2 separate regions of the Homo sapiens genome follow, and region 2 is linked to region 1. The links come from fine-mapping of genetic effects on gene expression. A gene starts in region 1. The other region holds a variant in brackets. All regions are shown on one strand. Distances are between the middles of the regions.

Region 1 (8,342 bases):
CTCGCCTTCACTGTGGGCCACCACCAGCGTGTCCATCGAGGTGGCCGACGTGAACGACAACGCGCCGGCGTTCGCACAGCCTGAGTACACAGTATTCGTGAAGGAGAACAACCCGCCGGGCTGCCACATCTTCACGGTGTCAGCGTGGGATGCGGACGCGCAGGAGAACGCGCTGGTGTCCTACTCGCTGGTGGAGCGGCGGGTGGGCGAGCGCGCGTTGTCGAGCTACGTTTCGGTGCACGCGGAGAGCGGCAAGGTGTACGCGCTGCAGCCGCTGGACCACGAGGAAGTGGAGCTGCTGCAGTTCCAGGTGAGCGCGCGGGATGCGGGCGTGCCGCCTCTGGGCAGCAACGTGACGCTGCAGGTGTTCGTGCTGGACGAGAACGACAACGCGCCGGCACTGTTGGCGCCTAGGGCTGGCACCGCTGCTGGCGCAGTGAGTGAGCTGGTGCCGTGGTCGGTGGGTGCAGGGCACGTGGTGGCGAAGGTGCGCGCAGTGGACGCTGACTCAGGCTACAACGCGTGGCTTTCGTACGAGCTTCAGCTGGGTACTGGCAGCGCTCGCATCCCGTTCCGCGTGGGGCTATACACGGGTGAGATCAGCACGACACGTGCCCTAGACGAGGCTGACTCCCCTCGACACCGCCTACTCGTGCTGGTGAAGGACCACGGCGAACCAGCGTTGACAGCCACGGCCACCGTGTTAGTGTCGTTGGTGGAAAGTGGCCAGGCACCCAAGGCCTCGTCGCGGGCGTGGGTGGGCGCCGCGGGCTCAGAGGCTACGCTGGTGGATGTCAACGTGTACCTGATCATCGCCATCTGCGCGGTATCCAGCCTGTTGGTGCTCACGGTGCTGCTGTACACTGCGCTGCGGTGCTCGGTGCCACCCACCGAGGGTGCGCGCGCGCCAGGAAAGCCCACGCTGGTGTGCTCCAGCGCCGTGGGGAGCTGGTCTTACTCGCAGCAGAGGCGGCAGAGGGTGTGCTCTGGGGAGGACCCCCCCAAGACGGACCTCATGGCCTTCAGCCCTAGCTTATCTCAAGGTCCAGACTCCGCAGAAGAGAAACAGCTCTCAGAATCAGAATACGTAGGAAAGGTGAGTCTTTTACTTTTTCTTGCCAATTCTAAAATTGTTCTTTTTAAAAAATTCTATATGATTTCTACTAGTTATTTAGATTCATAGTTCTTCATTTATTTTATATCATCCTACCGTGCGATTTTGAATATGAATTAGAGATCAATTTATTGCATTTACTGAACAATTTATTTAAACAATCTACATAACTGTTTTCTTATTTTTACATTTTGGCACTTCCATCATTAAGTCATAAGTAATAGACCATGAAACACTGAAAAACACCTCAGCAAAATTTGTAAATTAAACATTTCCCATAAATATTTTCTCTCTTAAAAATTGAAAATCACAATCGGAAGAAATTAAAGAATTTGATTATATAATACGTATTTTCAACTGACACTGTCTATCCAATCTGTCGGATAGTGTTTGGAATAACCTATATCCTGGACATTTCTTAGATTGTTCTTTGGATCAACAATGCCCTTGTCTATGCAATAGTTAATAAGCTACATTTTTTTTTTGTTTGTTTGTTTTTGTTGAGACAGTCTTGCTCTGTCACCTAGGCTGGAGTGCAGTGGTGTGATCTCAGCTCACTATAACCTCTGCCACCCGGGTTCAAGTGATTGTCTTGCCTCAGCCTCCTTAGTAACTGGGATTACAGGCGCCCACCACCACGCCCGGCTATTTTCTTTTTTAAATTTTTTATTTTTAGTAGAGACGGGGTTGGTCTCAACTAAATGTTGGCCAGGCTGGTCTCAAACTCCTGGCCTCAAGTGATCCACCCTCCTAGGCCTCCCAAAGTGCTGGGATTACAGGAGTGAGCCACTGCACCTGGTCTTTTTATTTGTATTTGAAAGCAGCCTGAGTGGATATTTTAACACCAGAATTTCCAAAAGTATGTAGCACAGGTTGTTACAACAAAATGACAGCACTTAGGAATAACTGCTAATCTTAAGTATGTTTTTTATAAGTAAAATAACCCATTATTTGGTATAAAGATTTCACACTGATAACATTTTTGAGTTATCAGGCAAAAATAGAGAGTATTGAGAAAAGAGACCCTCTCAATTTTGTTTAATTTGAAAATATTAACATTTAAAAATCACACTGGGGTTTTTCAGGTGGTGGGACTTTTTCTTCATTTAAGTGGAGACTACCCAGTCTTTATGTTAATGGTTGATAAATCATCCTTTCAGTATCATTATCATTAGGCCAATGTGTGCAGGCCTCCCACTGCAGAGATTGACTACTTTTTTCTGGCATCTAATTCTATGCGTGGGAATACATTTTCCATTAATGTGAGCTCACTCAATTTTACCTGGAAGCATCCATATTCCTAATGAAATTGGAATTTTTCCAAAAGATGAGGCCTGGTCTTGGATGACTACATTTTCACTTGAAACATTTATTTTGGGTAATTATAACACTGAACTCGACAAGTAAATGTTACACTTGGAAAGAACTTTTTTAGCTTTTCCAACCAAAGGCAGATGTATTGCAATAAAATAACTGTCTTAAACGGTCCTCTACTATTTAGTTCTTAGTTATTTGCTGTTTATTCTAAATATATGTGCATATTGATAAATCATAGAAATAACTTCCACTAGTGATCTTACCTTTAGCCATTTCATAGTTAGGTCAGAATATCCATTTCCAAGTAATACTTGACCACTATGTTTCTACCATAGGTAAATGATAAGCTTCTAAAATTATATTCACATATATCCAAATCTCCAGGAGTCACAATCTGTTGCTCTATAAGTTTTTTCAAAACATTCTTATTTACATTTTTTCTTGGTTGTCTAAGTGACATCTAGGTGGTAGTAGAAATTATTCACTGATACTTTATCTACAAAATGGCTCAATCTTCTAAACTCATAGTTCCTTTAATATTACCTTTATCTCTTAATAATCAGTATGGAGTCTACTCTGCTATAAATTCTCATGTGACATTCCATTTTGCAATTAGTATAACTCTTAAAGGTACTGAAAAGTGCAGTATTACAATAAGTTGTCAAAGGCATCTCATTACTATGAAGTCCATGAAGTTTAAAAATTTTAAATTTATCTCTTATTTTCAAACTAGCTACCATCTTTAAAAATTCAGCAAAGTGGTAACTGGAATATTAATAGCTATAATTATTTCTTAGGTCCATGCTTTTCAGAAATAATGCTTAAATGTTTACTTACTTCTTCATAATATAGCACAATATAATCATTTAGAAATTATGTAAGTTTGATATTAACAAATATCATTAACTTACATTTTTATTTATCTTGCTTGAAAAAGTTAATTCAAAATATTAATTTATTTATTCATGAAAACAACAATTGATAATTTATCCTATTCTAAATATGAATGATAAAATCTGAGTAAGTTGCAGTCCTGGCTTCCATTTCATGAATACACAGGAAACAAAAGCTGAAATGAAAACTTTTCCCCTAAATATTTAAATCACATGTTTGATTTCATTTTTAAATGGTCTGGGTATAAGCAAAAATTTGTACATTATTTTATTTCTCTAAATTTGACCTCTTTCCATAAATTTTCTTTGCCCCACTTCCAAATGCGGCGAGAATTCATGCTTCTCATTGAATTCACAGATATCTTTAGAATGTTTTATTGCTTAGTGTTAAATATGTTGAGTAAATACTGGCTTATGTTCCTAGGTTACTTTTCTCCCTTCACTGTTTAGTTAAATAATCAATTCTTTCAAGTAACAACTTTTAAAAAAACTGGAATCTAGAAATTCATCAGGAGTGGAGATCATCAAAAACGTAATTACTTTATATTGTTAACATTTTAGTATATACAGGTAAATTCAAATACATAAAGAGTGTGGAAAAATTAAACCTAATATATTCTTAATTGATGTGATGTGAGTGTAACAAATATACAAATCACATTCCCACAATAGGAAACAAATTTCCTGTTTGAATTTCTCTGTAAAGGACCGACTTCTGAAATCTTTATGTAAGTTACAGTCAAGACAGTTGATGAGGCTATAGTTCTTGAAAAAGGGGCATGGGAGGGAATTACAGACATTCTACAAATTTAAAAAACCATAAATGTACATATTTTAAGAAATTAACAGTTGCTGTAATAACATAAAAGTAGATATATGTATGTTTTAATATATACAGCACACACACACTTTTAAATACTTCAACATCTCAATGTTTTGATGATCATAAATCTGAAAGGATCTGATTTTTCTATAAAATGTAACTTGGGTGGTAAAGAGGTTAATGGTAAGTTGTCTTGAATCAGATTGAAATCCCATCGTACCAAGAGATAATATCGTTTTACTTAACCTCTATGTGTTTATAAAAAGCGAATAATATTAAAACTTATTTCAGAGGATTGTGATAATTTAACGGGATAATTCCATTAAGACAAATAGAAAAGTGGCTGTCACATGGGAAATATTTCCAATAGATGTCCACTGTTAAAACAGGAATCACAATATTTTAGTGTATGTCATGAATTAGCACAATTGATAGTGAATTAGTATAAAAGTTCTAAGGAAATATTTAGATAAAATATAAGGACTTTGAGGAGTGACCGAAGGATATTACAATTGAAACTAGAAATTTTGGGAAAGTTCAAACGACATACAAGGAAAAGAAGATACGTTTACATATTTAATACTTACACGTTTAGCCACATGATGTCGCTGTCCACCACAAGGTCTTTCTCCACAAAAGAAATAACAGCGTGCATTACGTATTCAGATACTGCTTTGCTTCATCCTCTCTAAAATTTAACACCGAGGAGTTTAAGAAATGAAGATAAGGAACTCGAATTATTTTTAAACTTTGGATCAATGTAAAGGCAATCTAATATTTGGAAAATACTTGCAATGTTGTTCTCCTGGCGAGAAGATCCTGGAGCCCAGTGCCTGCTGCTTTCTCTTCTGCTCCTCGCAGCCTCGGAGGTGGGGAGCGGCCAGCTCCACTACTCCGTCTCTGAGGAGGCCAAGCATGGCACCTTCGTGGGCCGCATCGCGCAGGACCTGGGGCTGGAGCTGGCGGAGCTGGTGCCGCGCCTGTTCCGGGTGGCGTCCAAAAGACACGGGGACCTTCTGGAGGTAAATCTGCAGAATGGCATTTTGTTTGTGAATTCTCGGATAGACCGCGAGGAACTGTGCGGGCGGAGCGCGGAGTGCAGCATCCACCTGGAGGTGATCGTGGACAGGCCGCTGCAGGTTTTCCATGTGGAGGTGGAAGTGAAGGACATTAATGACAACGCGCCAGTTTTTCCAATGGCTGTAAAGAATCTGTTTATTTCCGAATCCCGACAGCCTGGCTCTCGGTTTTCGCTAGAGGGCGCATCAGATGCAGATATCGGAACAAATTCGTTGTTGACTTACAGTCTTGATTCCACTGAATATTTTACCTTGGACGTTAAAAGAAATGATGAGGAAATTAAATCCCTTGGACTCGTGTTGAAAAAAAATTTAAATCGAGAGGACACTCCTAAGCATTATTTACTAATAACAGCAATTGATGGTGGGAAACCAGAGCTCACTGGCACGACTCAACTAAAGATCACTGTTTTAGATGTAAACGACAACGCCCCAGCGTTTGAGAGGACGATCTATAAAGTCAGATTACTCGAAAATGCACCAAATGGTACCCTAGTGGTGACCGTTAACGCCACCGATTTGGATGAAGGAGTAAATAAGGATATCGCGTATTCTTTCAATACGGACATGTCAGCAGATATTCTGTCAAAATTCCATTTAGATCCAGTCAATGGACAAATCAGTGTAAAGGGTAACATAGATTTCGAGGAAAGTAAGTCATATGAAATCCAGGTAGAAGCCACGGATAAAGGAAATCCCCCAATGTCAGATCACTGCACAGTTCTACTCGAAATTGTGGACATCAATGATAATGTACCTGAGTTAGTTATTCAATCACTATCTTTACCTGTATTAGAAGACTCTCCACTTAGCACAGTCATCGCTCTGATCAGCGTGTCCGACCGCGACTCAGGAGTCAATGGACAGGTCACCTGCTCGCTGACGCCCCACGTCCCCTTCAAGCTGGTGTCCACCTTCAAGAATTACTACTCATTGGTGCTGGACAGCCCTCTGGACCGCGAGAGCGTGTCGGCCTATGAGCTGGTGGTGACTGCTCGGGACGGGGGCTCGCCTTCACTGTGGGCCACGGCCAGCGTGTCCGTGGAGGTGGCCGACGTGAACGACAATGCGCCGGCATTCTCGCAGTCCGAGTACACGGTGTTCGTGAAGGAGAACAACCCGCCGGGCTGCCACATCTTCACGGTGTCTGCGCGGGACGCGGACGCGCAGGAGAACGCCCTGGTGTCCTACTCGCTGGTGGAACGGCGGGTGGGGGAGCGCGCGCTGTCGAGCTACGTGTCGGTACACGCGGAGAGCGGCAAGGTGTACGCGCTGCAGCCGCTGGACCACGAGGAGCTAGAGCTGCTGCAGTTCCAGGTGAGTGCGCGCGATGCGGGCGTGCCGCCTCTGGGCAGCAACGTGACGCTGCAGGTGTTCGTGCTGGACGAGAACGACAACGCGCCGGCACTGCTGATGCCTCGGGTGGGTGGCATCGGTGGCGCAGTGAGCGAGCTGGTGCCGCGGTCAGTGGGTGCGGGCCACGTGGTAGCGAAGGTGCGCGCAGTGGATGCAGACTCAGGCTACAACGCGTGGCTTTCGTATGAGCTGCAGCCTGGGACCGGCGGTGCGCGCATCCCGTTTCGCGTGGGGCTGTACACGGGAGAGATCAGCACGACCCGTGCCCTGGACGAGGTGGACGCCCCGCGCCATCGCCTACTGGTGCTGGTGAAGGACCACGGTGAACCCTCATTGACCGCCACGGCCACTGTGCTGGTGTCGCTGGTGGAGAGTGGCCAGGCACCCAAGGCCTCGTCCCAGGCGTCCGCTGGCGCCACGGGCCCGGAAGCTGCACTGGTGGATGTCAACGTGTACTTGATCGTCGCCATCTGCGCGGTGTCCAGTCTGTTGGTGCTCACACTGCTGCTATATACTGCTCTGCGGTGCTCCGCGCCGCCAACCGAAGGCGACTGTGGGCCGGGCAAGCCCACGCTGGTGTGCTCCAGCGCGGTGGGGAGCTGGTCATACTCGCAGCAGAGGCAGCAGAGGGTGTGCTCTGGAGAGGGGTTGCCCAAGACCGACCTCATGGCTTTTAGCCCTAGCCTTCCTCCTTGTCCAATTAGCCGGGATAGAGAGGAGAAACAGGATGTGGACGTTGATCTCTCAGCCAAAGTGAGTAATTTTTATTTATTCTTTCCAAAATGTCTTTGTTTTTCATTCCTCAATGTTTCCACTCCTCTGGAAATACATTAATAGTTAAGTATGAATTATGTGATTCATAATTAGACTTTTCCAGTTTTGTGGTTTTGTGGTTAAAACGGTAAGATTTTTGTTGCTAATTTTTGAACCAAATCAGCAGTAAGTTATGATATCCACACTTGTAATTTTGTTTTGTTATTAGGTGCAGTAGTAGAATTATTTTATTGCTAAATGCCTGGGTATAAGACAAATATTTTTTCTTAGATGAATTGCATTATTTAGAGAATCTGACTTCGACTTGTTTTATACTTATCCCTATACAATGCTTCTTCAATATCTTTTGCCACTTTTCATTTGGACTTCCTACTACCTGTTAGTACAAATGTTACTTGCTCATTTTATGAGTTCACCTAATGCTTATAACTCCCTATTGATTATGCTTTTCCACCTTCAGTTTCAAAAATTAGATCATTACACCTGTTGTCTTTTATGGAACCTCTTTTATTCTCTTATTCACTTGTTTGGAGTCTCAATCCTTATTTTTTACTTGAATATGATTCATTTTAGGCCTTGTGCTCTAATTTGGCAATACCGTTTATTGTTTCTTGATTTCCCAGTTGGGAAAAAAATCGAGAATAACAATTGCATTTAGAATTGCATCTTTGTTCATCTTTAGTTTATCACTACTTTATTTAATACTACTTTAATAATACTACTGTATTATATGTTAAAATTTATTACTAATAACTAAAATATCAATATGAAGTGAAAATTTAATAGTTGTATAGTATATTTATATATTCATTTTAAAAGAATGTTTTAAATCTTGTTAAAAATAATTTTCAATCTGAACAATATCTTGAAAATAATTATGGTATCTAATTTTAAAACTATCCCTACTAGCAAAACTTTTTATTCATTAGTGTCTTTTGCATACCATACTAAGGATGCTAATATGAAATAAGTTTGATAAGCCAATG
Region 2 (8,342 bases), 370 kb after region 1:
CATATGGAAGATAAGAAATAAGATTAGCTTTAGACTTCTTTGCAAACAGATTGGTTTGGAAAGCTCATTGACAAAACAAAAATTCAGAAGAAAAATTATTTTCAACCTAAAACTCTATATTTAGTCAAACTACTAATCAAGTTTGAGGGTAGAATAAAGACATCTTAGTACATTTAAGATCACAAAAACATTTAACTCTGAAACACCCTTCTCCGAAAACTACTGGAAGGTATCTATCAAAATGAGAACCTAATTCAAGACAGGAGAAGACAGAAGAAACAGAAACTAGAAGATCCAAAACAGGACAGAAGTGAAATGAATCTCCAGGTGATGCTGAAGGATGATCCAAGGATGACAACTGAGCATAATGAACAACTAGTCCAGTAAGGAGCTGTTTGACTCAAGAGACAGAGATTTTGAAGGATATCATTAGCAATCCTCTTAACATTGTATCATCTTTTCAATCATATGAACCTATTGGAGGATGTGTTCTAGTAATGCCATAGAGTAAACTGAAAAAGGGCAAGTTATAAAATCCCAGAAATAGCAAACACATCCAGAATAAAAGGCAAAGAATTCCAAGAATGACAGCAAAGAAAAAAATCCAGAATGATAGCTGTGCAGTAGGCACAGAAAGCAACCACCCAATTTAAAGAAAAATTGAAGTCTCAGGAGGAATGGAAATGACTATGGGGAAAATTGCACTGACAGGCAATTGTATCTGTGGGATGAATAAGTGATAGGGATAAAAAAAATCAAGTAAATGAAAAGGCAAGATAATTATTAAAATCACAAAAAAATTGAAAAAGAAAACATAATTAATACACAATAATGTTCCCAATATATGGTAAGTAAAAGAAAATCTAAAATACCTAAAATGTAATCTAACATAATAAACAGTCAATTGATAATTTCTAAAATTAATTAATCAAAATATATCAGAAAACAGATTAGTGACTGAAGAGATAACTAAAAGAGTTTTAAAATGGCTACCTCTTAGAAGGGGAACTAAGAAAAGTGAGGAGGAAAAGGGCAGAACAAGCCTCTTAGTGCTATTTAATTTTGGACCAAGGTCATATATTATTTTGAAAAAAATGCATTTCAAAATATCAGTAAAGTAGAGCTCTTGCAAGTCTCACCAAGAATAAAAAGGAGTTAAAATGCTAAACATCACTAATAAAAATAGGGATACAATTAAAGGTAAATAACGCAATGAAAACAATTCCAAGAAATTTGCAAACTAGATAAAATGATTTTCAAAATAAAATGCAAGTTACTTAAAAATACAAAACCTGAACAGATTAATAACCAAAGGTAAAATGTAAATGGTAGTCACTGATCTACTGCAAGTGAAGTCACCAAACCCAACCAGTTTAAAAGACAAGCTGGAATTAAGCATGTAGAAACATATAATAATATAATTATTAAAACTATTGTATAAAATAGATAAAAAGCTCCCTAACACATTCTATGATGCCAGTATAATAGTTTAATACCAAGGCCATAAAAGGCAAACACGCACTAGGTAAACAACATTAACTAGAAAAATCCTAAAACCATGTTGACACATCATATCTATCTGTGCACTAAAACAATAATACATTATGGTTAAATGTCATTTATATCAATAACTCAGTAATTTAGAAACTAAAGAATAAATGTATTATTTCAACAGCTATCAAAAATCACTTCAAAATATGAAAGAATAAAAAGAAAACTTTATTGATTCAAAAAAGGAATATTTACCCCAAATTGAGATCAACCATCATAGTTGAAGATGAAATGCTAGAAGCACTTCCACAAATGCAAGATTGACCAACTTGCTACTACTAATTTTAAGAGTATTCATTGGACATTGGAGATTCTAGTCACTGAAATTATAGAGGAACAATAATTTCTTATGTAATACTTAAATCAGGTGAAGGATGAAGGTTGGGTTTGGGGGAGGCATAAAGTGTTCCAAGAAATATCACAGGTAAAGAGTTAAGACCTGGAAAGTGGAATAATTGTTTAATTCACAAGAAATTGGGAAAAGGGTCAATTATTCTGCCATATTCACATTATTATTGTTAAATACTTTACAAATAAATAAAATGTCCCCAACCAATATTTGTTGACTTCAAGGAGGAGGTTTCATTTTCTCATATATATTTTTACTATCCATTTTTAAAATAGGAGATTTTCTTAGGATTTCGGTGGGGAGTCAGAGTTTAGTTTCATGCTCCTAGATTTAAGAAGACTATAAATTAATTCTTCTACGAATCCAGATTATCACAGGGGAAAACGACATCAGCTATTACTTACTAGCATTACTGTGACCATTTGAGGATAAAGATGGAATGAAACAGCAAAGATACCGGGGACAAATCATTCTTGTTGCAGAATTCCTTCAATCCGCCATCTTTTTGTTCTAGTCTTGATAACGGGAATAACATCCACAAAACGCAAGGTGGCGCTGCTGGCTAAAAAGAGAGAGAGAAAAATAATTTCACAAAGAAAGGATGTTACAGATTCCAGAGCAAAGAGGCAATCTGAAGAGAAAAGCATAGGAAAGGAAACAGTGGTAATAGGAATTGGGGTAAAATGAGGATCCTTCCCCACAAACATTGCTATTATTCAGCTCATTTCAAAGGATTCCGCTGCTGCCATTTGTGAGAGCCGCTGGAGGCTGAGTGAAAGTCATTTTGAAAGACTGATCCAAAGAAGAATGGAGGCCAGAGTGGAGCGTGCTGTGCAGAAAAGGCAAGTCTTATTTCTTTGTGTATTTCTGGGAATGTCTTGGGCTGGCGCCGAACCGCTTCGGTATTTTGTGGCGGAGGAAACCGAGAGAGGCACCTTTCTTACCAACTTGGCAAAAGACCTAGGGTTAGGGGTAGGGGAACTGAGAGCCCGGGGAACTAGAATTGTTTCAGACCAGAACATGCAAATTTTACTGCTCAGTTCGCTTACTGGTGATCTACTTCTAAATGAGAAATTGGACCGAGAGGAACTGTGTGGCCCCAGAGAGCCCTGTGTGCTGCCTTTCCAGTTGTTATTGGAAAAACCTTTTCAGATTTTCCGTGCTGAACTATGGGTCAGAGACATCAATGATCACGCTCCAGTATTTCTAGACAGAGAGATTTCCTTGAAAATATTAGAAAGTACCACTCCAGGGGCGGCATTTCTCCTAGAGAGTGCACAGGATTCAGATGTTGGAACCAACAGCCTGAGTAACTACACCATCAGCCCCAATGCCTATTTCCATATTAATGTCCATGATAGCGGGGAGGGGAATATCTATCCCGAATTGGTGCTGAATCAAGTGCTGGATCGGGAAGAGATACCAGAGTTCAGTTTAACCCTCACCGCTTTAGACGGCGGCTCTCCTCCAAGATCAGGGACCGCCCTCGTGCGCATTCTGGTTCTAGACGTAAATGACAACGCCCCTGATTTTGTGCGGTCGCTCTACAAGGTGCAGGTGCCCGAAAATAGCCCCGTTGGTTCCATGGTTGTCTCCGTGTCAGCCAGAGATTTAGATACCGGAAGTAATGGGGAAATAGCCTATGCATTTTCTTACGCCACTGAAAGAATTCTCAAAACGTTTCAAATCAATCCAACATCTGGCAGTCTTCATCTTAAAGCGCAATTGGACTATGAGGCAATTCAAACTTACACATTAACTATTCAGGCCAAAGACGGCGGCGGGCTTTCTGGAAAATGCACTGTAGTGGTTGATGTAACAGATATAAACGATAATCGACCCGAGCTGCTCCTGTCTTCACTTACTAGCCCAATTGCAGAAAACTCACCCGAGACAGTCGTGGCTGTTTTTAGGATTAGAGACAGAGATTCCGGGAACAATGGAAAGACAGTGTGCTCCATCCAGGACGATGTCCCCTTCATCCTGAAGCCATCTGTCGAAAACTTCTATACTCTGGTAACAGAGAAACCTTTGGATCGAGAGAGGAACACTGAGTACAACATCACCATCACCGTCACCGACTTGGGGACACCCAGGCTGAAAACCGAGCACAACATAACCGTGCTGGTCTCCGACGTCAATGACAACGCTCCCGCCTTCACCCAAACCTCCTACACCCTGTTTGTCCGTGAGAACAACAGCCCCGCCCTGCCCATCGGCAGTGTCAGCGCCACAGACAGAGACTCGGGCACCAACGCCCAGGTCATCTACTCCCTGCTGCCGTCCCAGGACCCGCACCTGCCCCTCGCCTCCCTGGTCTCCATCAACGCGGACAACGGCCACCTGTTTGCCCTCAGGTCCCTGGACTACGAGGCCCTGCAGGCGTTCGAGTTCCGCGTGGGCGCCACAGACCGCGGCTCCCCCGCGCTGAGCAGCGAGGCGCTGGTGCGCGTGCTGGTGCTGGACGCCAACGACAACTCGCCCTTCGTGCTGTACCCGCTGCAGAAC[A/G]GCTCCGCGCCCTGCACCGAGCCGTTGCCCCGGGCGGCCGAGCCGGGCTACCTGGTGACCAAGGTGGTGGCGGTGGACGGCGACTCGGGCCAGAACGCCTGGCTGTCGTACCAGCTGCTCAAGGCCACGGAGCCCGGGCTATTCGGCGTGTGGGCGCACAATGGCGAGGTGCGTACCGCCAGGCTGCTGAGCGAGCGCGACGCAGCCAAGCAGAGGCTGGTGGTGCTGGTCAAGGACAATGGCGAGCCTCCGCGCTCGGCCACCGCCACGCTGCACGTGCTCCTGGTGGACGGCTTCTCCCAGCCCTACCTGCGGCTCCCGGAGGCGGCCCCGGACCAGGCCAACTCGCTCACCGTCTACCTGGTGGTGGCGTTGGCCTCGGTGTCTTCGCTCTTCCTCCTCTCGGTGCTCCTGTTCGTGGCGGTGCGGCTGTGCAGGAGGAGCAGGGCGGCCCCGGTGGGTCGCTGCTCGGTGCCTGAGGGCCCCTTTCCACGACATCTGGTGGACTTGAGCGGCACCGGGACCCTATCCCAGAGCTACCAGTATGAGGTGTGCCTGACTGGAGGCTCCGGGACAAATGAGTTCAAGTTTCTGAAACCAATTATCCCCAACCTGCTACCCCAGAGCACAGGCAGGGAAGTGGAAGAAAATCGCCCATTTCAGAATAATTTGGGTTTCTGATAAAGAATGTAAACTAAATCCGCGTCTGTGAATACGTTTCTGATTAGGAACTTATTGCGAGGTTCCCTTAAGGGAGTGTCTTTACATCATTTCAAATATGTACTCTTGAAGTCAAGCAATAAATTTCTATACATAAAATAGGATCCTGATTTAGTATCAAGAACCCTTCACAAAGCATGAAATGTATATGTGTAATGTTTTATGTCAAACAATTATGCTTAATATACAGTCTATTAAATGTAAGTCTTGTTTGAGATATTTTAAATTGCTTTCCATTGTTTTCAATCTCTACTGAGACTTCCTGAGTTGATTAGAAAGCTGTATGAGTGTACCTACCCTAGTCTCAGAAGCATAGACTGTAGAGTATCTTTTTAAGCATTTTTAAAAAATGCTTTTAATGCATCATACACTATTTTAACACTTTTAATCTGAGAAGAAGCATATGAGGCATGGTATTTTAGGAATGAACAAATAGATGGTCTTAGAGATTCAGTAAGTTCACTAAGTTCCACTAACTAATAAGTGACAAAACTGAGCATCCATCCCAGATCTGTCTGACTCTGGGTCAGTGACCCTGCTCCGATTCCATACTGTTTTCTGTCATTAGATATCACCTGGCAAGTTTCTGCCTAATTAAGGAGAAGTCTTTTATCATATTTATACTGCTGTCCAATCTTTTCTATATTTAGAAATAATAATGTACATATTTATCTATGGTTTTATTTTCTTATACACCAAAAGTCCTGCTTTTCTGGGTCAATTTTCAACTATTATTACTAATGCTCTGATCTGTCCAAACTCAAGCGGAAAACAAAATTGAAAGGGCAACCTGTGCCTTCTCCTTTCTTCAGAACATATGACTTTCATTTCCCAGAAAAAAGATTAATGGTCCTGAGTAGGAATATTACATAATTTTGATTGCATCATTAGTTAATTATTTTCTTCATATTGTAGATTTTCTGCAGTCACCCATACTTAACATTTGTAATACATTTTCCTGATTTGAAAGTTTGTTTTTAAAAGTTTTCTATTAATTATAGTGCACTATTGAATCAGGAAAATTTAAGAAAAAGAATAGTTAGTTTTAAATGCATAATATCAAAGAGAATCATAGATGATCATTAAATTTTTAGAAATTCTCGGAAGTTAAGGAGAAGCACTGTTTTTTATAAAAATTTACAACTGATTTTTATTTTTAAAATATCTAGATAATTTTTGCATGGTTGCATTCTGAAAATATTATAAACTAGTGCTGGTAACTCTAATAAAGGTAGTATTACTATATATCACTGGTGGGATAGAATCTAGAGGCAAAAAAACCTCACAGCAGTAAAATCTTAAAATGCTTTCATGGTCTTAGGGTAAAATTATCTAATTTCTCCAACAAATAAATAGCATGAAAAACAGGAGGAGAGAAGTCTACAGTAGGAAAGATCTTACGAGATCTACCAATCAAACGTAATGTGTGGATCTTGTCTGGATCTTCATTCAAACATCAGCAATGACTTTGAAACACTTGGAAGAGTTTGAATATAGATGGGTATTAAGTAATATTAACTGAATTTTTTAGGTATAATAATGGCATTGTACTTAAGGGTATTTTTAGAGTCACTTAAAGTTATTATGCATTTAAAGAAATGTACAATGAAGTATTTGTGGGTGAAAATTCAGTTTGTCTGGAACGTAAAGATGTTGGAGGGATAGCGTCAAGAATTATGGCAAGACATTGATAATAGTTGATGCTAGTACTGAGTAATTGCAGGTTAATTTTACTCCTCTCCTTTTATGAGATATGAAAAATATCAAAATAAAAGCTTTTTAAAATTGATGCTATTAGAAGAGAAATAGAGGTAACAAAAAAGGACACGCTTCCCCAGAAATAAAATCACCACTGCTGTTACACATTTTGTCTCTATTTAGACAAGCTCTCCAGCCTTTCCCTGTTTACCTTCACTGTTTGACATAACTTCTCTACCTGAGATAGTCATGTTCCTGTACTATTCTACCATGTAATTTTGAGGTGTTTTTCTAGTTATAGCAATGGATTTATGCAGAGTCACCTACCTGGTGGTATCAAATTGCCATATACCGGGTACATAGTTTATTTTTAAGCTTAATCTCTCTTTGAATCAGTTTCCTCATGTGTAAGGTGGGGAAATCACAACAGCCCTATGTGGTAGGTGCTATTATTATCCTCATTTTACAGATGAGGAAATTAAAGCAGAGAGATTAAATAATTTGTTCGAGGTTCACAGCTACTAATTATTCCTATGGTTCATGGAAATAAAACTATAAAGATCTAAATGTTGCCCATGTTAACTACTATTATATTTGAAATTCTTTTTGCCAAGCTAGACTGTTACCTAAATATTTCCTTTTTGCCCAAAACTCAGTTAGCATTGTTGAAAGACTAACGCAATTTCTCCTTCGGGCAGTTGTCTGCTCAGTAACGTCCGGCGATATTAACCGTGGTGTTGTAACTTTACATAGTCCCAGGGTACATACAGGCAGAGTTGGGAATATTACATCTATTATCATCCCACAAAATGTAAGATCCTGTGAGGACCCGTGGTGGCGCTGCAGGATAAGAAGGCACAAACCAGAACCGCAGCTGCAGCTCCATTAACCGGCAAAAAGCAGCAGAACCTGGAAGTCCACGGGGAGCTTGGATGCCAAAGGGAGGACGGCTGGGTCCTCTGGAGAGGACTACTCACTGGCATATTTCTGAGGTATCTGTAGAAAACCACAGCCTCAGATACTGGGGACTTTACAGTCCCACAGAACCGTCCTCCCAGGAAGCTGAATTCAGCAAGAACAATGGAGGCCAGCGGGAAGCTCATTTGCAGACAAAGGCAAGTCCTTTTTTCCTTTCTCCTTTTGGGCTTATCTCTGGCGGGCGCGGCGGAACCTAGAAGCTATTCTGTGGTGGAGGAAACTGAGGGCAGCTCCTTTGTCACCAATTTAGCAAAGGACCTGGGTCTGGAGCAGAGGGAATTCTCCAGGCGGGGGGTTAGGGTTGTTTCCAGAGGGAACAAACTACATTTGCAGCTCAATCAGGAGACCGCGGATTTGTTGCTAAATGAGAAATTGGACCGTGAGGATCTGTGCGGTCACACAGAGCCCTGTGTGCTACGTTTCCAAGTGTTGCTAGAGAGTCCCTTCGAGTTTTTTCAAGCTGAGCTGCAAGTAATAGACATAAACGACCACTCTCCAGTATTTCTGGACAAACAAATGTTGGTGAAAGTATCAGAGA

Which allele goes with the higher level. Alleles are on the strand shown, and positions count from the first base shown. SD is a standard deviation of normalised expression in the study named.
As copies of A replace G in region 2, the expression in monocytes of the gene that starts at base 4,801 in region 1 goes down (large effect, 1.8 SD a copy in Fairfax 2014).

What was found.
Region 2: its variant is fine-mapped to the expression of PCDHA3 in monocytes (Fairfax 2014, PIP 0.95).

The regions. Positions count from the first base shown.
Region 1 is chr5:140,796,257-140,804,598 of GRCh38, forward strand. It overlaps PCDHA3 (protocadherin alpha 3), which reads left to right and starts at 4,801. Exons shown (of 4, transcript NM_018906.3): 1 at 4,801-7,335. The coding sequence starts at 4,942. The region is part of intron 1 of PCDHA1 (protocadherin alpha 1); the gene reads left to right. PCDHA2 (protocadherin alpha 2) reads left to right here. Exons shown (of 4, transcript NM_018905.3): 1 at 1-1,096. It also overlaps PCDHA@.
Region 2 is chr5:141,170,129-141,178,470 of GRCh38, forward strand. PCDHB7 (protocadherin beta 7) reads left to right here and starts at 2,516. Exons shown (of 1, transcript NM_018940.4): 1 at 2,516-6,255. The coding sequence starts at 2,708. The coding sequence ends at 5,089. PCDHB8 (protocadherin beta 8) reads left to right here and starts at 7,662. Exons shown (of 1, transcript NM_019120.5): 1 at 7,662-8,342. The coding sequence starts at 7,907. It also overlaps PCDHB@. RefSeq lists an enhancer at 4,486-5,116. The variant A/G (reference allele first, on the strand shown) is at 4,409.